Regions from separate parts of the Homo sapiens genome. Here regions 1, 3, 4, 5 and 6 are each reported to be linked to region 2. The links are microRNA targets in miRTarBase. Many come from high-throughput screens and were not tested one by one. Region 2 holds a microRNA gene; each other region holds the end of a gene's coding sequence.

Region 1 (3,000 bases), not on the chromosome of region 2:
ATCTGCCCCATGGGGTAGGGCCGGGGCAATGGCCTCATCCTGCAGGAATGGCCCCAGCCTTGACACTGGAGTAGAGTCCTTGGCATTCACAGCAGCTGGCCTCGTGTGCCATCCATTAAGTGCAAGATGGCTGGGCCCCCGCCCTCCCTGCACAATGTGCCCAGAGTGCGTCATTTATATCTCCTCCTTGTAGGCGGATATGGGAAGACCCAGTTAGCGTTGATCTCTCATTTCAAACCATTCTGTTTGCTTCTCTCTCTCTGCCCCTCCAGACTCAGTGACTATCTCTTCACGCTAGCCAGATATGCAGCCATGAAGGAGGGGAATCAAGAGAAAATATACATGAAAAATGACCCATCGGCCGAGTCTGAGGGACTCTGAAATCACAGAAAGTGGGAGCTTGGAGGATCCCTCCATGGCGATGGCCGTGGAGAGAGGAGCTTGCCCTTCTGGGGTCCTGGTTCCTGAAGAGCTCACCCAGAGAGGCTCAAAGCAGCCTTTTGTCCCAGCTCAGCTTTGATCTACACCTCTTGCCACCTTCCTCAAGGGACTGTGACCCTTTGGGGATTCTGTCCCTGACCCTGCTTCCCCAAGCTCTCCTGGGTCTTGGAGGGATGTGGGAATGAATTGGCATTGCAGGAAAGACAGGTAAAGTGATTGCTGCAATGAGAAGGAGCTGTGCGGAAAAGGAATAAAAGTTGGAAAGGCTGGAGCCGTGTGTGTGTGTGTGTGTGTGTGTGTGTGTGTGTGTGTGTGTGTGAGAGAGAGCCCTCCCACTGCCAGCTCAGGTTGTTCACAGATTTGGAATGGGACCAGAGGCCCTTGAAAATGTAATTGTGATTTACCTGTGCCAAAGGTGCTTTAAATGTCACATTTGTAAAGGGGAAGGCGGACAAGATTTGGAAGTTTAGTCACCTCTGAGCCACCCATCACCGCCAAAGTGTGGGGGAAGGATAGCTGCAGATTGACAGGCGAGGCTCAGAAACTCCTGGCTTAGATTGAAGTGTGTGTGATGGGGGTGCAGCTTAGAGGACCCCCTCTGAAAGGGATGGAGATGCTGATGAGAACAACACTACCACTTGAAGGTGAACATTCCCTGTCTGGTTGGACTGAGTCAAGGGTCTGCGGTGCAGCATCTTCAGCTTGAGAAAATGAGGTTGTCAGTTTCCAGCAAGGCTGACATCCACCAGACTGATTTCTCCGATGTTGCACTTGGCTGGCTTATGCCTCTGAGATCGGTGCCACGGCTGTATTTATTTCAGTTGTCACTGCTGCTCCCTCCTGCTATGAAACGACACTGCCAGTGCCAGCAGTGTCCTTGGGAAAGGCAATATTTATGAAGGGCAGAAGAGGCAGCCCCAAGAACCTAAAGACTGCAGGCTGCTAATTGCAGGAAATGACTTTGGAAGGGCAGGCTCTTGTCCAGTTTCAGGGCTGAAATGCCTGGCGAACTCCATTCAGCCATCACATATTGACTGAGTGGCTGCTTAGCATGGGCCACCGCGCTAGGCTCGGGACAGCTGGTCTTTCCGGCCATCTTTCTTGCTGGCAAGTCAGCAAACATTACCTTCTTAGTCACGTGCATATTTTTGCCTTCATTCTTACCACCTGGCCTGCAAAGTTTGCAGGAGGGCCAGGTATATTCACTTGTGTCTTCTGGGTCCTTTCATTGCTGACAGGCTGTGATGGCCCTCTTGAGCCTTGGGCAGGGTGGGTGAGGTGCAGATGACCAGGAGTGTGTGAATGCCTTCCAGGAGGTGGCTTTGTTCCGTGCCTCCCTGCCCCCATCGTCACTACCAGGTCTGGTACGGAGTCGGTGCTCAGTGTTTGCAAAACAGAGCTGAAAACGGACTTTGGGAGGCCGAGGCAGGCAGATCACCTGAGGTCAGGAGTTTGAGACCAGCCTGGTCAACATGGTAAAACCCCATTTCTGCTAAAAAAAAAAAAAAAAAAAAAAAATTAGCTGGGCATGGTGGCGGGTGCCTGTAATCCCAGCTATTCAGGAGGCTGAGGCAGGAGAATCACTTGAACCTACGAGGCAGAGGCTGCAGTGAGCCAAGATCGTGACACGACACTCCAGCCTGGCTGATAGAGTGAGACTCCGTCACAAAAAAAAAAAAAAAAAAAAAAAAACCCTGAAAACGCAATCACTAAGGCTCGGTCAGGGAGTATGTTCAAAGAGCTTGCAGCGAATCACTCAATTCTGTCTACACCTCAAAATCTCAAAATCTTCCTGGAATATATATATATATATAAAATAACACAGCAGCCCTGCATGCCTAGCCATGGGAAAGCACAGCCTCCAAAGGATAAGGAAAGCTTTTTGAGTAAATACAACATCCTAAAGTGACAATCTTTGAAACAAGGCCGTTCACCTGTTGCCAAGTCCTGTCCTTCCAGGACCGGGTGTCACAGCCTGGATGTTAACAGTCGCGTTCTCAGACCCCCGCCTCTGTATCTGTCTCCCGGTTCACCAGCAAACACTTCTCTGAGAAACCACCTGGGTGCAGGGCAGATGCCACCACTCAGCAGGTGTTTCTCTCCTGTGCTACCAACCTGGGAAAAATGGAGAAAGCTTGCTTTGGGGGCTGGAAGGATGGGGTGTTTAAAACATTTGCTCTTCTGCAGTGCCTTTCAAAAGCTCTATCAAGAGCCCGAGGCAAAAGAAAAGATGTGTACCCCTCTGTACACTGAGCAAATGTCCTCCCATATTTTGAACCAGGTGGGAAAAGTTAATGAAAGCCCTACAGTCAGGAAATGTGACTGCGAAGCCCCCGCTGCCCCAGTGTTTGCACACCACTGGCAACTCTCAGAAACAATCAGTCCCATTGCACGGGAACACGGGGTTTTGAAACAAACAGCAGCCTGTTTTTATTTAAAGTCGTGATCCCTTGCTTATCGTAGATTTTTTTCATAATTTGATTTTGGAAAATATTGCACACAAATACTACTCGATCCCTGAGTTTGTGGGCACTTCCTTACATTTTGCACCCATGAAAA
Region 2 (3,321 bases):
CGAGGACATTCAGGGTGCTCAGGACTCGCTGTGGATCTTGGTCTTGTTCACTTGCCTGCGAGGAAAGGAAGGAGGCAGCTCAGGGGATGGGGAGGATCTCTGGTCCTGGCCACAAAGCGCAGGCAGGGATTAGGAGAGTGTGGCAGATGAGACACCCGCTCACCGTGCCGTTGACGTTCCAGGAGATGGTGGGCCGGGGGTGCCCTGACGCTTCACAAGACAGATTCAACACCATATTCTCTTTCACCCACACCTTCCTCTCCTTGAATGCCATCCAAGGGGGGCCTTGGGGAGGTAGGGAGAGGTGAGGTGGCAAGCCCAGCTAGCCTGCCTCCCCCTCCGCACCAGAGCTCCCCAGGGCAGCAGGTGGCTTTTTGTCAAAGAGCTTAAAAACCACCCCACTTGGGGTGACCTGGTCTCTACCCAGAGGGAGGGCCTCACCAAAAATGGCCACGTTGACCAGCTGTGTGCGGTTCAGGCCGGGTATGCTGGGCACAGACGCCACGCAGCGATAGCCGCCTCCTGCCTCCCGTTTCAGGTCATGCAACTGAAGCACAGGCCCCCTTTCCAGCACCTGGCCTGTCTGGGATGAGAGATGGGTCAGAGGGTCTGGGAAAGAGCACATTCTTGTCACCGCCAGCCCCACCCACCCCATCAGCCCCTTGCCCCAGACCCGCCTGGGTACCTCTTCTCTCAGCCACTGGAACTCGAGGTCCTGGCTACTCTCTGCCTCACAGGTCAGGGTGAGGCTGCTGCCTTCCTGTCTCTCAGGGGCTGCGGGACTCACTCGGACGTCAGACACATCTGGGGGTACAGCAATCATGTCACCCAGGGCAGGGTGGGGCCAGTTCCCTATTGCCCCAGCCTGGTCCCCCTGTCCTGGGTCCCCAGCCCCTCACAGTTCACCAGTAGTTCCTGTGGTTCACTCAGCAGCGATATCATGGTGTCCAAGTCCAGGCCCTGACATTCATAGCGCCCACTGTGTTCCTTCCGGGCAGGCTCCAGCACCAGGACCCCGTTGTCGTTGGTTGTCTCTTCCTCTGCCTCCCTGGTGCTGGGGTTCTAGGGAGGATTGGGGAGGTGAGCAGAGTGCACCTCCCGCCACTCCACCTGGGTCTCTGCTTGCATCCCCACCTGCACCCAGCACAAAGCCCCCACACCTGCTTGCTGATGCTGAAGTGTGGTGGAGGGTTGCCATCAGCCAAACACCTGATTTCCACGCGGTCCCCTTCCTTCAGCATTCCCACGGGCTCCACTTCCAGCCACACTTTTTCTGTCGGGTCTGCATAGGCAAAGGGGGTAGCTCTTGGCCCATGAGTCAACCCTGGGCTGGATAAGGGGGAGCCAGCAGGAGTTTCCAGCAGCCCCAGCCCCAGTAAGCAGAGAGTCAGGTTAGTACTCACAGAAAACAGGGACGGTGACTTCCCTGGACTCCTTCATGTGGTTCCCACTGGGCAGCCGGTAGTTGAGCTCACAGTAAAACTGGGCATCTTTGTCTTCTTTAACCAGCTGTGCCTTCAGAATACTCTGCAAGGTGTACAAACCACTCGACTCCACAGTCTGGGACGACTGAATGTGGACCCCTGGGCAGGGAGGAAGGGGAGGAAGACTCAGCCTCAGCCCCACCTCCAGCCCCACCCTAGGGTTGTCCACTGGGGTTGGCAGGGGACCATCTAAATAGCCCCCTGTCCCCTGTAGAAGGCCAGGTACAAATGCAAGCTGGAAACCCTTCAACCCAGCACTTTTACTGCTCAGTGTCAACCCTAGAAAAACATTTTCATGTCTGCTCATATCCAAGGATGTGTGCAAAGAATGCTGCAATGATAAAAACGAGCAGCCGTCTAGATGTCCACTAAATGGGGAATGGTGAACTCGACTACCTGCTATGCGTAGTATGGAAAACTTGGCAGTAAGCAAAACGATCAGTTGATCTAAATAGACTGACCCAGAAACATTGTATAAAAGAAATTGTCTAACAATGTATACCATACACCACCACTTAGACCAGGGTTTCTCAGCACTACTGATAATTTTTTTTTTTTTTTTTTCAGACAGAGTTTCACTCTTGTTGCCCAGGCTGGAGTGCAGTGGTACAATCTCGGCTCACCGCAACCTCCACCTCCCTCCCGGCTTCAAGTGATTCTCCTGCCTCAGCCTCCTGAGTAGCTGGGATTACAGACATGCGCCACCACGCCCGGCTACTTTTGTATTTTCAGTAGAGATGGGGTTTCTCCGTGTTGGACAGGCTGGTCTTGAACTCCCGACCTCAGGTGATCCGCCCACCTTGGCCTCCAAAAGTGCTGGGATTACAGGCGTGAGCCCAGCCAGCACTACTGATGTTTTAGGCCACGTTGATTCTTTATTGTGGGGGCTGTCCTGTGCCCTATAGGATGTTAGCAACATCCTTGGTCTCTCTACCTACTAGATGGCAGTAGCACCCCCTCTATGTGTGACAACCAAAAATATCTCCAGACATTGCCAAGTATCTCCTAGGAGGAGGGGGTACAAAATCACCCCTGGTTAAGAATGACTGATTTAGATAATAAAACACAGAAGCCTATATCATTCTAGAAATATTTCTATATATGAGCAAATACATAGAAATAGGCTTGAAAGAACACACCCTGATAGCAGAGATTATTTCTGGGAGGGGGGGTCTCAGGCAAGAAGAAACTTCTAGATTTTTTGTCAGTTTAAATTCTCATGAAAATATTTTCAAGTACCATTTGTATAATTTTTTTAAGTTAAAAGCTTAATGAAAATATAAGGCAGTTCCTGTGTAGTACCATAGGGACAGCTCTTTTTAAGAGATGGGGTCTCGCTCTGTCACCCAGGCCGGAGTGTGGTGGTGCAATCCTAGCTCACTGCAGCCTTCATTTCCTGGGCTCATATGATCCTCCTGCCTCAGCCTCCCAAGTATCTGGGACCACAGGCACACACCACCATGCCTGGCTAATTTTTTTATTTTCTGTAGAGACAGGGTCACCCTATGTTGTCCAAGGTGGTCCTGAACTCCTCACCTCCAGAGATCCTCCTGCCTTGGCCTCCCAAAGCACCGAGATTACAGGTGTGAGCTACCACACCTGGCCCAAGGGTGGCTTTTGGGAGAAAGGGCTACTCACGGTTCTTCTCCTCCTTCAGAGGCCGGCCATTCTTGTACCAGATGACTTGAGGAATGGGGTACCCGTTCCTCCCTACACAGGTAGCGACCTAAAGAGCACAGGGTGTGAGTCTCCCTGCCTCCGAGCCCCCTTCAAGCCCCATCTCAGCGGCTGCGCACCAGCTGCCCAGCCCACCTGCCACACATCTCACCTCCTCAGG
Region 3 (3,262 bases), not on the chromosome of region 2:
CCTCCCAGCTTGTGACGAGCAGAGCAAGAGCTGGAACTTGAATCTGAATCACATGGCCAAGGCTAGGATTCCAGGCTCCTGGCGCCTAACAAGTTAAAGAAAATACATTCTCCCCTAGGGCTGGGAATGATGAGAAAGGCTTATGGAAAATCTGTATCTGGGCTGGGCACAGTGACTCACACCTGTGATCCCAGCACTTTGGGGAGGGTGAGGTGGGTGGATCACCTGAGGTCAGGAGTTCAAGACCAGCCTGGCCAACATGGGGCAACCCTGTCTCTACTAAAAATACAAAAATTAACTGGGCATGTTGGCGGGTGCCTGTAATCCCAGCTACTCAGGAGGCCGAGGCAGGAGAATTGCTTGAACCTGGGAGGTGGAGGTTGCGGTGAGCTGAGATTACACCACTGCACTCCAGCCTGGGTGACAGAGCGAGACTCTGTCTCAAAAAAATTAAAATAAAATAAGAAAAAAGAAAATCTTCATCTGCAAATAGGTAGTTGTAATTTTCGCTCTTTCTAAATCCAGCTACCTTCTTTGTCCTTCACAGATGACCAGGATGCAGAGGTACTGTCGGGTGAGCCCAGCCAGCCATCGTCTCAGGAGCAGTCCGACTAGGCCCCAGGCCCGCCCTCCTGGCCAGCAGAGTGGGGCACTGGGGGGCAACAGCAACAGTTTTCTTGTCTTCATTCAGTGATATGTAGGGAGGAAGGAGGTTGATAGCATAGATGGCAACTGATTCCCAGTTTAAGATAGGAGGAAGGAGAGCAATTTCTAAGTTTCAATCCTGCGCTGTACAGTTGAAGAAGAGTGTGGAGGAAGCTATTACCAGGGGAGGGCCAGGGCTCTGAGGAGTGGGCGCTGGGAGAAGCTCCCATTTAGGAATGAATTTAACTGTCCTTGGGTTACACTACCATTTATTGGAACAAGCCCCAGAGGCAGTATTTGATTTCCTCAGGCCCCACTCTAGGACAGGAGGCACCATCTATTTCAGCCTTCTGCTGCCTTTGCCTGGTCCTCCAGGTTGCTGGGGGCACCACAGACATCAAGATTCCAGTTCATCCAGGTGGCTGGAGCCAGCAGCCAGGACCAGGGTCGTTGACAGCAGGTTCTGCAGCATCCTGCCTTGCTGCTCTGTCCCCCACATCTTCCTGGCCACAGCCCCTTGCCCCTCCTCTAAGGGGTTTTACTAGCAAGCATCCTGGCTGCTGGGGCTACTTCATTCCCCCTCCATAAAGTTTCAGCCATTATGGGCACTGGTTTTAAAAAATTTATTAGTTTGACTATTTGATGTTTTTATAGTGATTGCCAACTTTAAAAAGTAGGCTGTTCATAAGCACTGATGCAGTCCCTAGGGAATAGAATGGTGCTTCTGATCACCTGTGACATGAACAGTTTCTTCTGTGAGGACAGTTGGCTATTGAAATAAAATGAGCAATGGAAATCCTTGTGGAAGGCTTATTCTCCCTTTGATCCTGGTGGAAGGTAGGGTTGGCAGGAGCCTGAGTTGGGGAGATTGGGGGCCTTGGTTTGTGGCCTGTGGCTGGCCTTGTCTGCACTTGCTTAGTTCCTATTTTTAGTTCCTGCCCTCCCTGTTCTACCTCCCCTTTCTTTATCAAGTGAGGGGATTGGGCCAGGCTAGTAGACTTCTTTATTATTACTGTTGTTATTTTAAGCAATGGAGACCTTTTAAGGAAATCTGATGTAGACACACAAAATGTAAAGATGTCTTAGTTTCCTTCCTCCAGCTCCTTCCATAGTCCCTGCATAGGAACATGCATTTAAAAAAACAGAACTTGAACCAATTCTGTTTTAGGGTCCTCGGCTTCTTCCATTGGTTGCATTTATACCTTCATTTAGAAAACATCCTGTGTTTCTACTAGATTCAGAACTTGACAGTTCCCAGCTCTGCCCATGAGGAACATGACATCTAGTGGGAGAGACAGAGAGTCTTAGGGGATTCATACTAGAACAGAGAGGTAGGGAGGCTGTGGGAGTGGTCAGAGAAAGCCTTCTGCAGGAGTCAGGGCCTCAACCACAACATAAGGGGCAATAATGAGTTAGGCAGAGAAGAAAGAGATGAGTACTCCCAGTAAGGATGCAGAGGAGGATGGGGACCTGGTGTGAAGGATTCCATGGTCAGGGCAGTGTCCTGTTCTCTGTCCAGGGAAGGGCTGGCACCCAAGAGAACAGGTCAACTTTACTTCCTTTTTTGCCTGTGGGCAGAGGTGTCCAGGCATCCTCCTAAGTCCTGGGATAGGTAGTGGGGGGATCATTGAGAAGTGATACCCTAACTATTCTCTTACGTCAGTGTGGTGGCTGGGGCCTAGGGCCTGGGCTTTGTTGGAAGGCACTGGAGGCAGGCACTGTCACAAGAACTTTTCAGTTACTGCTATACAGACATAAGAGTGTTTTCAGCAGGGCAGACCACGCATGCTGAGGCCTGAGGTCTGCAGGTCAGCACTGGTGTCAGCCTGGACAGGATGATGCGGTGATTTGGGACTACCCTGGCTTGGGGGCTGAAGCTATCACTTACCCCAGTGCTGGTCTTCCCCTTGGGGACCACAGTGCTGCAGGACCCTGAGAGGGTGGGAGAAGACATGCCTTTTGGTTGCACTTGACATCAATCACCATGCCCTAACTGAACCCCTGACCTGCCAGTACAGCAGGGTGGGGCTGGATTGGTAACCTTACTTTTTCTTTTTCTTTTTTTCTTTTTTTTTTTTGAGACGGAGTCTCGCCCTGTCGCCCAGGCTGGAGTGCAGTGGTGCGATCTCGGCTCACTGCAAGCTCCGCCTCCCGGATTCACGCCATTCTCCTGCTTCAGCCTCCTGAGTAGCTGGGACTATAGGCGCCCACCACCACGTCCGGCTAATTTTTATTTTATTTATTTATTTTTTTGTATTTTTAGTAGAGACAGGGTTTCACCATGTTAGCCAGGATGGTCTCGATCTCTTGACCTTGTGATCTGCCCGCCTCGGCCTCCGAAAGTGTTGGGATTACAGGCGTGAGCCACCGCACCTGGCTGGTAACCTTACTTTTTCATAACACTTGAAGTTTTATCTTAGACTCCACATTTTGAAAGATTTTCCAACCAAGTTGCACTACTCAAATAAAGCTGCTTTCCTGTTTCTGGTCAGCACACACGCAGAAGTATGAAACAGTCTCTGTGGCCACATGGACACCACAACTATTCCAGACCAATGCAAGGAAATGGGTTGTTTAGTTAGCCTGTGGGGAGATAGGAGGCTTTGGTCTTTGGAGA
Region 4 (3,282 bases), not on the chromosome of region 2:
ATCCCAGCTACTGGGGAGGCTGAAGCAGGAGAATCACTTGAACTGGGAGGCAGGGGTTGCAGTGAGCCGAGACTGAGCCATTGCACTCCAGCCTGGGCGATAAGAGTGAAACTCTGCGAAAAAAAAAAAAAAAAAAAAAACCTGCCTTCAGTGTTTAGTCATGTGTTTCCTCCTTTCCTATTTTTCTCTCTTCCTGAGTCTTTAGTGTTCAGTATCTGCACTGCCAGCACTCACATCATTCAGTATTTCTTTGACATTTTTCTTCAATCTAGTCTAAAATGTCACTATTGCGTTCTTCACCTCTACTCAATTCTATTAATCCATTTTTTTTACTTTTTCCAATTATCATATTTTTCCCACCTAATATTTCCTACCTTTTTCTCATATTTTATGTATGTTAGTCTTGCTCAATATTCCTAATATGTTCTCTTATTTTTCAGCATGCTTATTAACTTCTAATTCAGTATAAAATCAATCAGGTTTCTTTCAAACAATTCATCATTGCAGAGATAACTCCATGGGTTACTCAATCACAAAACCAAACCAGTCCCACAGGTGCATTCACTATCCCCCGTCTTTCCCTGACCCCCTGTACATTACTAAATGTCCACTTACAATTACACAGTATAAGGTCTGAAAACAAGATTCAGTTTTATTTGCTGCCCCAGTATCTGTAACCAGGAGTGCCACAAAATCTTGCCAGATATGTCCCACACCCACTGGGAAAGGCTCCCACCTGGCTACTTCCTCTATCAGCTGGGTCAGCTGCATTCCACAAGGTTCTCAGCCTAATGAGTTTCACTACCTGCCAGTCTCAAAACTTAGTAAAGCAAGACCATGACATTCCCCCACGGAAATCAGAGTTTGCCCCACCGTCTTGTTACTATAAAGCCTGCCTCTAACAGTCCTTGCTTCTTCACACCAATCCCGAGCGCATCCCCCATGTCATCCTGCATGGTGTGCAGCGTCCTCCTGCTCTGGGCTGTGAATCTCTATGGCTAAGAAACTGTTGATCTCATATCTCCGGTGCTATGTGTGGGGTGTTCAACCATCTTCATAACCCCAGGGTGGTAATCCCTCCCTCACCAATGGTGTGAAAAGAAGGCAAATAAAACAATGATTGAATGCTCTTTGGGCTCAGTATCATTCCTCAATGTGCCCCTATTTCTGGATTCTTCTTTGTAGGGATAGCCCCATAGACCACCTGATCACAAGACCAAACCAAATCCCCAGGGGGGCTTCCTCATCCTCTCCCTTTCCCTCATCCCCTGTACAATAAAAGGTTGACTCAGCAGCCCTGCACTGCTCAAAGCCTGTACATCCCAAGTAAAGGGCTCACCCTTGAATAACTCCTGGGAGATGACATTTGATTCCTTGGCATGTTCTGCCCAAGTGCCTTGATATACTTGGGGCCTTGGGCCATGCCAGACCCTTCATGCTAAAGATGGGATTTGTGATGAATCCCTGTTTTTGTACATCTGGGACTCTGGACCATGCTGTATCTGTTTGAACTCTAGGGAACCTCAGGTCTGAGGACTTCAGGTCAATTATTCAAGTACTCCATACTCGTCCTACAGACCCCCAGTAAAAACCCTGGACACTAAGGATCAGGTGAGCTTCCTCAGTTGGAATTACTTTGTACATATTATCATACATCCTTGCAGGGAGAATTATATGCTGTCCGTAAGTCTCCACTTGGAGAGAATAACTGTCAGATATGCCCCCCATCCAAAGGGAAAGGCCCCCACCTGGCTAGTTCCTCTATCAGCTGGATCAGCTACACTCCACAAGGTCCTCAGCCTAATAGGTTTGACTTCCTGCCAGTCTGAAAACTTAGTAAAGCCAAGTTGCCAGTCTTCGTAACTGCAAGTTTTCCTCTGTTTTCTCCACACTCTAATCTATACATCTGTTTTGTTTGCTGATTTCAGTATGTATCCTATCAATGTAACAAACCATAATAAACCACAGCATGATAGCTCTTTATTTCTGTAAGTCCTGCTAGGAAATCATCAAATCTGACGGTGGTTTGGGGGACCTGAACAAACCTCCTGTAATTAATCAGCTTTCAGTTTCTCCCCCTAGTCCCTCCTTCAACAACATAGGAGGATCCTCCCCTTCTTTCTGCTCACGGCCTTATCTAGGCTTCCCAGTGCCCCCAGGACAGCGTGGGCTATGTTTACAGCGTCATCCTTGCTGTGTGTGTGCCTCATGCATTGTGGCTCCAGCTTATCCTCAGTGATCTGTAGAGAGTGTCCACCTTGTGTCACTGTCCACTCTTCCAGGGTGGGCCCCACCCCTCCCATCTCTGCACCCCACAAACAACATGGTCACCCACGTCTTTGTGTGTGTCCTCACTGAAACTGAGCGAGAAGTCTTCAGAGACAGCCAGTGTTCCGAAGGAGAGGACGAAATTATACCCATTTCAGAAACATTGGCATACACCTGTGTCTGCCCATTCCTTTTCCTAGCAGCCCTGGACTCCACACCAGAAAGCACAGGTCAGTAGGACTCAGGAGGCTCGAGCTTCGGCCAGGTGAGTTCCAAGCTTCAGGTGTCCAGCATCCAGAAAGGCCAAGTGATGCCAGAACGTGAGGTGGACTTAAATTTACTAGAGGTAGGGGTGGGACAGGGGCACTCAGGGGTTGGCTGCGATGGTGTCCTTGATCCACTTCCGGTAATGCACCACCTTGGTGTACACAGCAGGCTTTTCAGGCAGGGCACATGGCTCAGGGCCCCATGATGTGATACCTTGAAGCACACCATTACAGACAAGTGGACCCCCAGAATCACCCTAAGGGTAAAGGAGGAGAGACACAGTGAGAAAGATTGGCCCCAATAACTGCCTAGGCAACTCCATCTCTCAGAACCGCGCAGGCAGATGACTGAGAGCAATTCCCAGCTCTCAGGAACAGACAGAAATGTCTCCAGAACCCACTCCCACAAGAATATGGGCAGGGAGTCCAACAGAGGGAACAAGGCTCCAGTCTTGGCCTATGGGGAGGGGACTTCAGGGTCCAGCTCCTGCACAAGGGGCAAGGTCCAGGAGGACAGTCCCTGCAGACAGGTCAGCAGGATGAGGGCCGGGACCATCTGCAGGATGCTGCCCCCACAGGCACATCGCAGAGGCCACCTCTTCAGGACTACTCTCTGACTAGATGTCCCCTCTCCAGGGCATTGGGGAGCCATGGAGGGCCGTGGGCAGGGCTGGGTATGGTCAGTTCAGTGATCAGAATGACCCACTGAGGCCAGATGGAGGATGGAGTGGAGGGGAGAGACTGAGGG
Region 5 (3,000 bases), not on the chromosome of region 2:
CCTCTGGATGAAAAATACCTTCAGCTTAGCATAAAATGTCATGAGATAATTTAACCCTTTGAGAAAGGGTAGAATAAGAATTAAAGAAAAAGAAAAAGAAACAAACCAATTATCTGATTTACTTTGATAAGAGAACAATTACTTGAGAAACAGAAGCTCCTCCAGTGCAGGGCCCATTACCTACTGTTGCCTCTGTAACTTCCATTTAGCCTACTACAGGGCTATACACATCTTAGTTTCCAAAAGTTTGTTTAATTTCAAAAGAAAAATATCTCATTTAATGCAACCAGAAAACAACCTAAAGGTTATCTTTTAAATGATCTCTTCTGACTTAGGGTTCCTTTGGTCTGTCCTTCTTCTGACAGTGTTTTCTCTCTCTTTTTTTTTTTTTTTTGGCCCATTCACAGGTCCTATTTATAGACAACTGGCGTGTCCTACATGGCAGGGAATGCTTCACTGGCTACCGCCAACTGTGTGGCTGCTATTTAACAAGAGATGATGTATTAAACACTGCTCGCCTCTTGGGGCTTCAGGCTTAAAATTGACAGCATCTGGATTATGAATACACCTGGCACCCTGGCTACCAGAATTTCATATGGGCAGAATAATATTGTGTCAAACTCTACTTCAGATTGTCTCCTTATCCCATCCCACAAAACAGAATCTGTCCGTTTCTCTAGTAAGGGAGACTTGTTGGAGAGGCGGGACTCTGAGTTATCTAATGTCAGACATCTAGTGGGGCAGCTCTCTTCCTCATGTTATAACATGGATCCACTTGTTTGATTTAAACCTTTTAATATAATTTTGGTCAGTCTCCTTCAGAAATATAATCTCCATATTGATAGGAAAGCAATAATTGCCATGAGGTAACGATTTTTTTCCCAAGTAGATCAGTTAGAAAGAAATGCATTCTAGAAATAACAAAAATCCTGATAAAGCAACAATTTGCAAAATGTTTGGTCTTAGGACACCTTAACACTCTTAAAAGTTATTGAAGGCCCCAAGGAGTTCTTGGGTGTGGGTTCTATCTATTGATACTAATTATTTTAGGTATTAAGACTGAGAAATATTTAAAGCTCAAGAAGAACACAGAAGCACACATCCCTCAGCTATGAGAGAGATGACATAACCATATGTCATGTAGCCTCTGGAAAAGTCCTCTGTATCCTCATGAGATAACGAGAGGGGGAAAAAAAGCTACTACTGCCTTTGTAACTTCCACTTAGCCTACTACAGGGCTATGCACATCTTAGTTTCCAAAAGTCTGCTTAATTTCAAAAGAAAAATGCCTAATTGAATGTAACTCATCTTGGTGTTATTATACAAAATAATTTTTAATCTGCAGACCCACGAAAAGGGTCTCAGGGACTCCTCCAGGGGTCTTCAGACCATACTTTGAGAACCCATGGGCTAGCGACTACCTTGAGACAGTCCTTTACCTAGGCCTGTGGATTAAAGGGTTTAGCTGAAACCCTAGATTCTTCTCTGTAGTCTAATAGAACTCCAAACATTGTAAGAATTGCTTGGTAGCATAAGCTCAGGGATAAGGTGGGAATTGAGTTCAAATATAGTGTTTTATCTTCCACACAAATCATCTCTATAGGAGTTAAATTAGGAAGTCACAACAGCGCCTGTTGAACAAACTCATCAGTGTGGTAATCCTATGAGGGATAATTGCAGAAAGGTTTTAGAGACTTGTGAGGTTCCATATGATAATTCTTTACACCTCCCCCCCCAAGAGAAAGTACACAGGGCTATTCTGTAATATTGTTCAGGGAAATCAGCATGATAGATGCTGTGCCTCCAGAGAGTTCTCTGGAGATTACTACCCAAATGTGTATTTTGGCAATTTGGTGGTATTTAGGATGTAATATGTTTTCCTCCATTTCTGCTAATTTTCTCTCTCTCTCTCTCATAACATACTATACATGCTAATTGCCAAGATTTGAATGAGTCAAATTTAGTAGCTTGCTGCTTTTATTTTTTAAATGGCTTCTTTTACGTATTGGCGGGGGCGGGTGGGGGGCAGGGTATGAGGCTTCTTTTCCCTCAGCTTTCATTGAAAGTGAAGCTGTACAATAACCACATTGACCACTGTAGAATGATGAAAGAGAATATAGGCTAGGATGCACACAAGAGGGGGGAAAAGGCATTATTAGTGAAGATAGGAGTTACAAAGCAAAGCAAAGTCAGTATTCAGATAGAGAATAGAGCCTAATCTGATGTTTGCAGGGAGTTCCTAGATCACATTTGGCAATTTACACATTATTTTATTGACCTATCCAGTGCTCCAAAATGTGTTCCAAAATATTTTGGCATTTTATTTGTACTACATAGGAATCTTTAGGGGAGTCCCTGAAATTTGTTTTCCTCTTAGGTCAAAGGACTGATAATTAACTTTGGTTCTTAAGGAGTATGCCCTTTAGCAATAAGAACAGCAATAACATTTTACCCTGCAGTTTTTTCTCTATACCTACTATTATGCACTCCTAAAATATGTCATCATTAGTCTTCATGAGGATGTTTACCATTTCTGAAGTTTTGCGTAAATTAGCCTTGAAGATTACACTATAACTGAGGTCATCAGCATTGACTTATGGCCAGCAAAGGACATGCTCATGGCCCTGGAGAGATGAGGACACAAAACAAATCAATTTCCCCACTTACTGAAGGACTCCCCTTACCTTCTGTCTCTCCTGAGACCTTGACTCATTAATTATTTTACTCTCCTTTTTGGAAATTTGCAACCGGTCCTTCTCAACAATGTGCTCCCTTTAGTACACTGAAGAAAAAGAGAAGGGGATTATTTGAGTCCTGATCACGATGCATTGAAAACTTCCTATGTGAGATGTTTCTGTTTTTATATCTCTTCCAGGTGTCCCTGAGTATATAAGCATGGGTCTATGTCTACCAAGCTCACTGTAGAGTCACTTTTACCTTTTGCTATGGTGGAATGGGATCTGTAGGGTCAGGAACACAGCACCTAACACAGTGCCTTAT
Region 6 (3,321 bases), not on the chromosome of region 2:
GTTTTATACCTGTGGCAAATACTGTATTAGCATCTATAGATTTAGGGCAATCTTTAAGAAAAAATGGAATGGTCAGAGTCTAAGTTATTTCATCACTGTACTTTGGTTAATGTGAACTATGATTCATATATTTTATCCTTTCAAACTGAAATTACCTGCTAGAGTGAGCAACCATCTCACCACTGTGGCTCTTTAGCTTTTCCCATATGTAATCTAGAGGTACTGGAATAATAAGAACACAAAATCATAATGAAGGCTGCCAAAGATTATAATTTTTTATTAAGATCTCGAGTAACTCCCTGTAAGCTCACTGTGGTAAATAGATTTGGTTCTAATACCACAATTCCTCAAAGCTCTATGTTCTTAACGGTGCTGTCTTAATAGAAATAAAATGTAAACCATGTGTGATTTTATCTTTTCTAGTAAGCACATTTAAAAATAATTGGAAACAGATGATTCTTTTTTTTGAGACAGAGTCTCACTCTGTCGCCCAGGCTGGAGTGCAGTGGCACAATCTCAGCTCACTGCAGCCTCCTCCTCCTGGGTTCAAGCAATTCTCCTGCCTCAGCCTCCCAAGTAGCTGGGACTACAGGTGCGCACCACCATGCCTGGCTAATTTTTGTATTTTTAGTAGGCAGGGTTTTGCCACACTGGCCAGGCTGGTCTCGAACTCCTGACCTCAGGTGACCTGCCCACCCTGGCCTCTCAAAGTGCTGGGATTAGAGGCGTGAGCCACTGCGCCTGGCCAAGATTCATTTTAATTGTGTATTTTTCTTTAACCCAATATTTCCAATGTTAACATTTCAACATGTAATCAATACAAAAAATTAGGAGATATTTAACCTTTTATTGTCCTTTAGAGCACATCTCAATTTGGACTAACCATATTTCAAATGCTCAACAGCTACATATGGGTAGTGGCTACTGCACTGGACATCGAAGTTCTAGAACTCTCTCTTACAAATGAACACTATCACTGTCGTTGAAAACTTTCTTGAGATAGTTTATTTTATACAAACAAACTGTATTTCTTATTATTCCTGAAATATCTCATATTGGCATCCTGCCATTTCATTGTAGTGCCTATCATTTTTCCATTGATACTGATAAAGTTGCCTAAGACACAACTTCCTACATAGAGGAAATAAGAGGAACAAACCCCTTTTGGACAGAATCTATTAAAACTCATTCCACTATCCCTATGTACATAAATAACATTGCCTCTGCTGAGTGGAATTTGCATTCGTTACTTCAAAATTCAGACTCATCTACCTTTCCAAGTTAGACAGTTGGGGAAAGAACTTCCTAAATCTTAAGGTTGAAGGCAGAGGGCTCAACCCCACTCCAGATTCAGGCAAGGGGAATAGGAAAGAAAGTGCGAGATAAGAGCATGGTGGCCTCTTGGGGTCCCTTGATGGGGGCTGTTGGGAAGTGGAAGGCATTCTTTTAAGGGGATAAGAAGCAAATGGAAGACTTGCTCCAACTCTAGAGTTTTCAGAGAGTTAGAGGAGGTGGAGAGATTTACTCCTGCCATGGATCATATGCATTTCTACCATCAACTCCTGGTTTTGCAGTATTTTTATAAATGGAGTTTGGACCTTGGTGACACTCAGCCTCTCTTCCCCTTTTCCTATGTTGCTCAATCTTCCTTTCCCTCCTAGGTTCTTACACATTTCAAACCCTTGCCAATAACAGTATTTTAGTTATCAGGTCTCACCATTCCCTCTGGTTGTTGAGCCTTTGGATAAAAATCCACATGGCTATGGAGTGGGTTTTGTTGGAAAAAGTGACCGTCCTCTAACTGCACCTCTATTTCTGGCTCCTCAAACAGCAAAGGGTAATAATAAGGCATGGTAGAGGTTTTCCCATTTTTCAGTGACTAGACTGTGAATATTTACAGATGAATTTTCTATTATTAATGTTATTGTGGTTGTTTTAAAATAAAAGTTCTGAATGTATATATGACCAAAACAAACAAACAAAAAGAGCACAGTGAACTCAAATCATATTCCATTACAATAGTCCCAGGACTTCATTAGACAGACTCCCAGTAATTAAGCCTCCAATCTTAAAATGTTAAACATTTCAACATGTATTGACTAATTCCTGTAAAATACAGAAAGTGCAACATCACCAAACGTGCATTTCCCAGGATTCATTTTAGAATTCTCATGAAAATTTAATAATAGTATTTCAGTTAATTATGGCATTTGAGAAAAAGATACTAATGGGGAAAGATCACATACATGCTTTGGGTGATACGTTAAAAAAACCTACAATAATTAGTAGTATTGCCTTAACATTTCTAAAATCACATAAAAATGATCATCTTTGATTGCCATTTCAGTAATTTTGAATACAGGGTATGTTATTTTCTGCTCACTAGTAATCAAAACACATAAAACAGACTTGTAACAAATATTCAGAGTCGATTATTTTCATAAGCTAAACAGTTCCGATACTTTAAGATTTGTGTTTGAGCATACAGTACTGCAATGTTGGCTACATAAAATAAAAAAATCTTTTTAAGAGGAAGCTCAATAATCAGAGGCTGTATTGCATTTAAGGATTTAACACTGGCTATATACAAAAGGGAAAGCATTTCAATGAGAAATACTTCACGTTACCAAGTTCTCTCCTTTAATATGGCAACATTCAGCAGCTTATGCTACTCTTTTATCCTTTGGTTCCCAGTGACAAACAATGCAGTAATAATGCCTCTGGTTTTAGTTCCTCTTGGATGACATTTATTAGCAGAGAGAGAGACCTGATGCTTTAGCTGAAATTTGGCAGCCCAAGAAGTGCACCAACTGCTCCAAAGTAACCCTGTGTAATTTAAAAATAACTGTTATGTAGTACAGCTTTTAAGTTAGCATATAATATTAACCACTTGAGAACACACAACTATGCACAATCTATTTGTTTAATAATATTTGGAAACCTACCAATTTCTGCGTTGTTAGCTATTATAAAAAATTTTCTGAATCTGTATTCTTGATGTCTACACACCTTTGAAATATGTATTTTTATTTATTATTATTATTTTTAGAGACATGGTCTCACTATTTTGCCCAGGCTGGCCTTGAATTCCTGGGCTCACATGGTCCTCCCATCTCAGCCTCTTGAATAGCTGGGACTATAGGCTCACACTGAAATACGTATTCTAAAAGTGTGGCCTTTAGACACTAAAGCTTCCAGGACTGTAACAGCAATTCTGCACCCTCTCCCCTTTACTTAATAAAACAAACTAACTTCCTGTGGCTGTGCCTGACACTCTCACTGCATGCCATGTGGAATTGCACAAGGGCACACCATTCTGAT

The links. Region 2 holds the annotated microRNA hsa-miR-6756-3p (UCCCCUUCCUCCCUGCCCAG, at 1,584-1,603, opposite strand). A microRNA usually pairs through its seed, bases 2 to 8, with sites in the 3' UTR of a target mRNA and lowers its output. Matches are read on the target gene's strand: a 7mer-m8 pairs with bases 2 to 8, a 7mer-A1 pairs with bases 2 to 7 and ends in A, and an 8mer does both.
Region 1: miRTarBase lists MMAB as a target of hsa-miR-6756-3p. Seed matches in the 3' UTR shown: 7mer-A1 at 880-886.
Region 3: miRTarBase lists DMRTB1 as a target of hsa-miR-6756-3p. The part of its 3' UTR that is shown has no 7-base or 8-base seed match.
Region 4: miRTarBase lists KLK2 as a target of hsa-miR-6756-3p. Seed matches in the 3' UTR shown: 8mer at 2,111-2,118.
Region 5: miRTarBase lists TMLHE as a target of hsa-miR-6756-3p. Seed matches in the 3' UTR shown: 8mer at 2,796-2,803.
Region 6: the mRNA of PANK3 is a reported target of hsa-miR-6756-3p. Seed matches in the 3' UTR shown: 7mer-A1 at 1,621-1,627.

The regions. Positions count from the first base shown.
Region 1 is chr12:109,554,409-109,557,408 of GRCh38, reverse strand. MMAB (metabolism of cobalamin associated B) reads left to right here. Exons shown (of 9, transcript NM_052845.4): 9 at 273-3,000. The coding sequence ends at 381. Among named protein-coding and RNA genes, the nearest start is that of MMAB, 18 kb to the left of the region's middle.
Region 2 is chr11:119,311,367-119,314,687 of GRCh38, forward strand. It overlaps MIR6756 (microRNA 6756), which reads right to left and starts at 1,646; the gene lies at 1,584-1,646. MCAM (melanoma cell adhesion molecule) reads right to left here. Exons shown (of 16, transcript NM_006500.3): 4 at 3,313-3,321; 5 at 3,123-3,210; 6 at 1,404-1,583; 7 at 1,161-1,282; 8 at 900-1,062; 9 at 686-804; 10 at 442-583; 11 at 164-285; 12 at 1-55.
Region 3 is chr1:53,466,048-53,469,309 of GRCh38, forward strand. DMRTB1 (DMRT like family B with proline rich C-terminal 1) reads left to right here. Exons shown (of 4, transcript NM_033067.3): 4 at 548-1,441. The coding sequence ends at 615. Among named protein-coding and RNA genes, the nearest start is that of DMRTB1, 8.3 kb to the left of the region's middle. RefSeq lists an enhancer at 3,117-3,262.
Region 4 is chr19:50,877,913-50,881,194 of GRCh38, reverse strand. KLK2 (kallikrein related peptidase 2) reads right to left here. Exons shown (of 5, transcript NM_005551.5): 5 at 628-2,791. The coding sequence ends at 2,636. Among named protein-coding and RNA genes, the nearest start is that of KLK2, 6.1 kb to the right of the region's middle.
Region 5 is chrX:155,489,074-155,492,073 of GRCh38, reverse strand. TMLHE (trimethyllysine hydroxylase, epsilon) reads left to right here. Exons shown (of 8, transcript NM_018196.4): 8 at 408-3,000. The coding sequence ends at 539. It overlaps TMLHE-AS1 (TMLHE antisense RNA 1), which reads right to left. Exons shown (of 4, transcript NR_039991.1): 3 at 2,685-2,782. Among named protein-coding and RNA genes, the nearest start is that of TMLHE-AS1, 24 kb to the right of the region's middle.
Region 6 is chr5:168,554,796-168,558,116 of GRCh38, forward strand. It overlaps PANK3 (pantothenate kinase 3), which reads right to left. Exons shown (of 7, transcript NM_024594.4): 7 at 1-2,826. The coding sequence ends at 2,776. Among named protein-coding and RNA genes, the nearest start is that of MIR103B1, 4.4 kb to the right of the region's middle.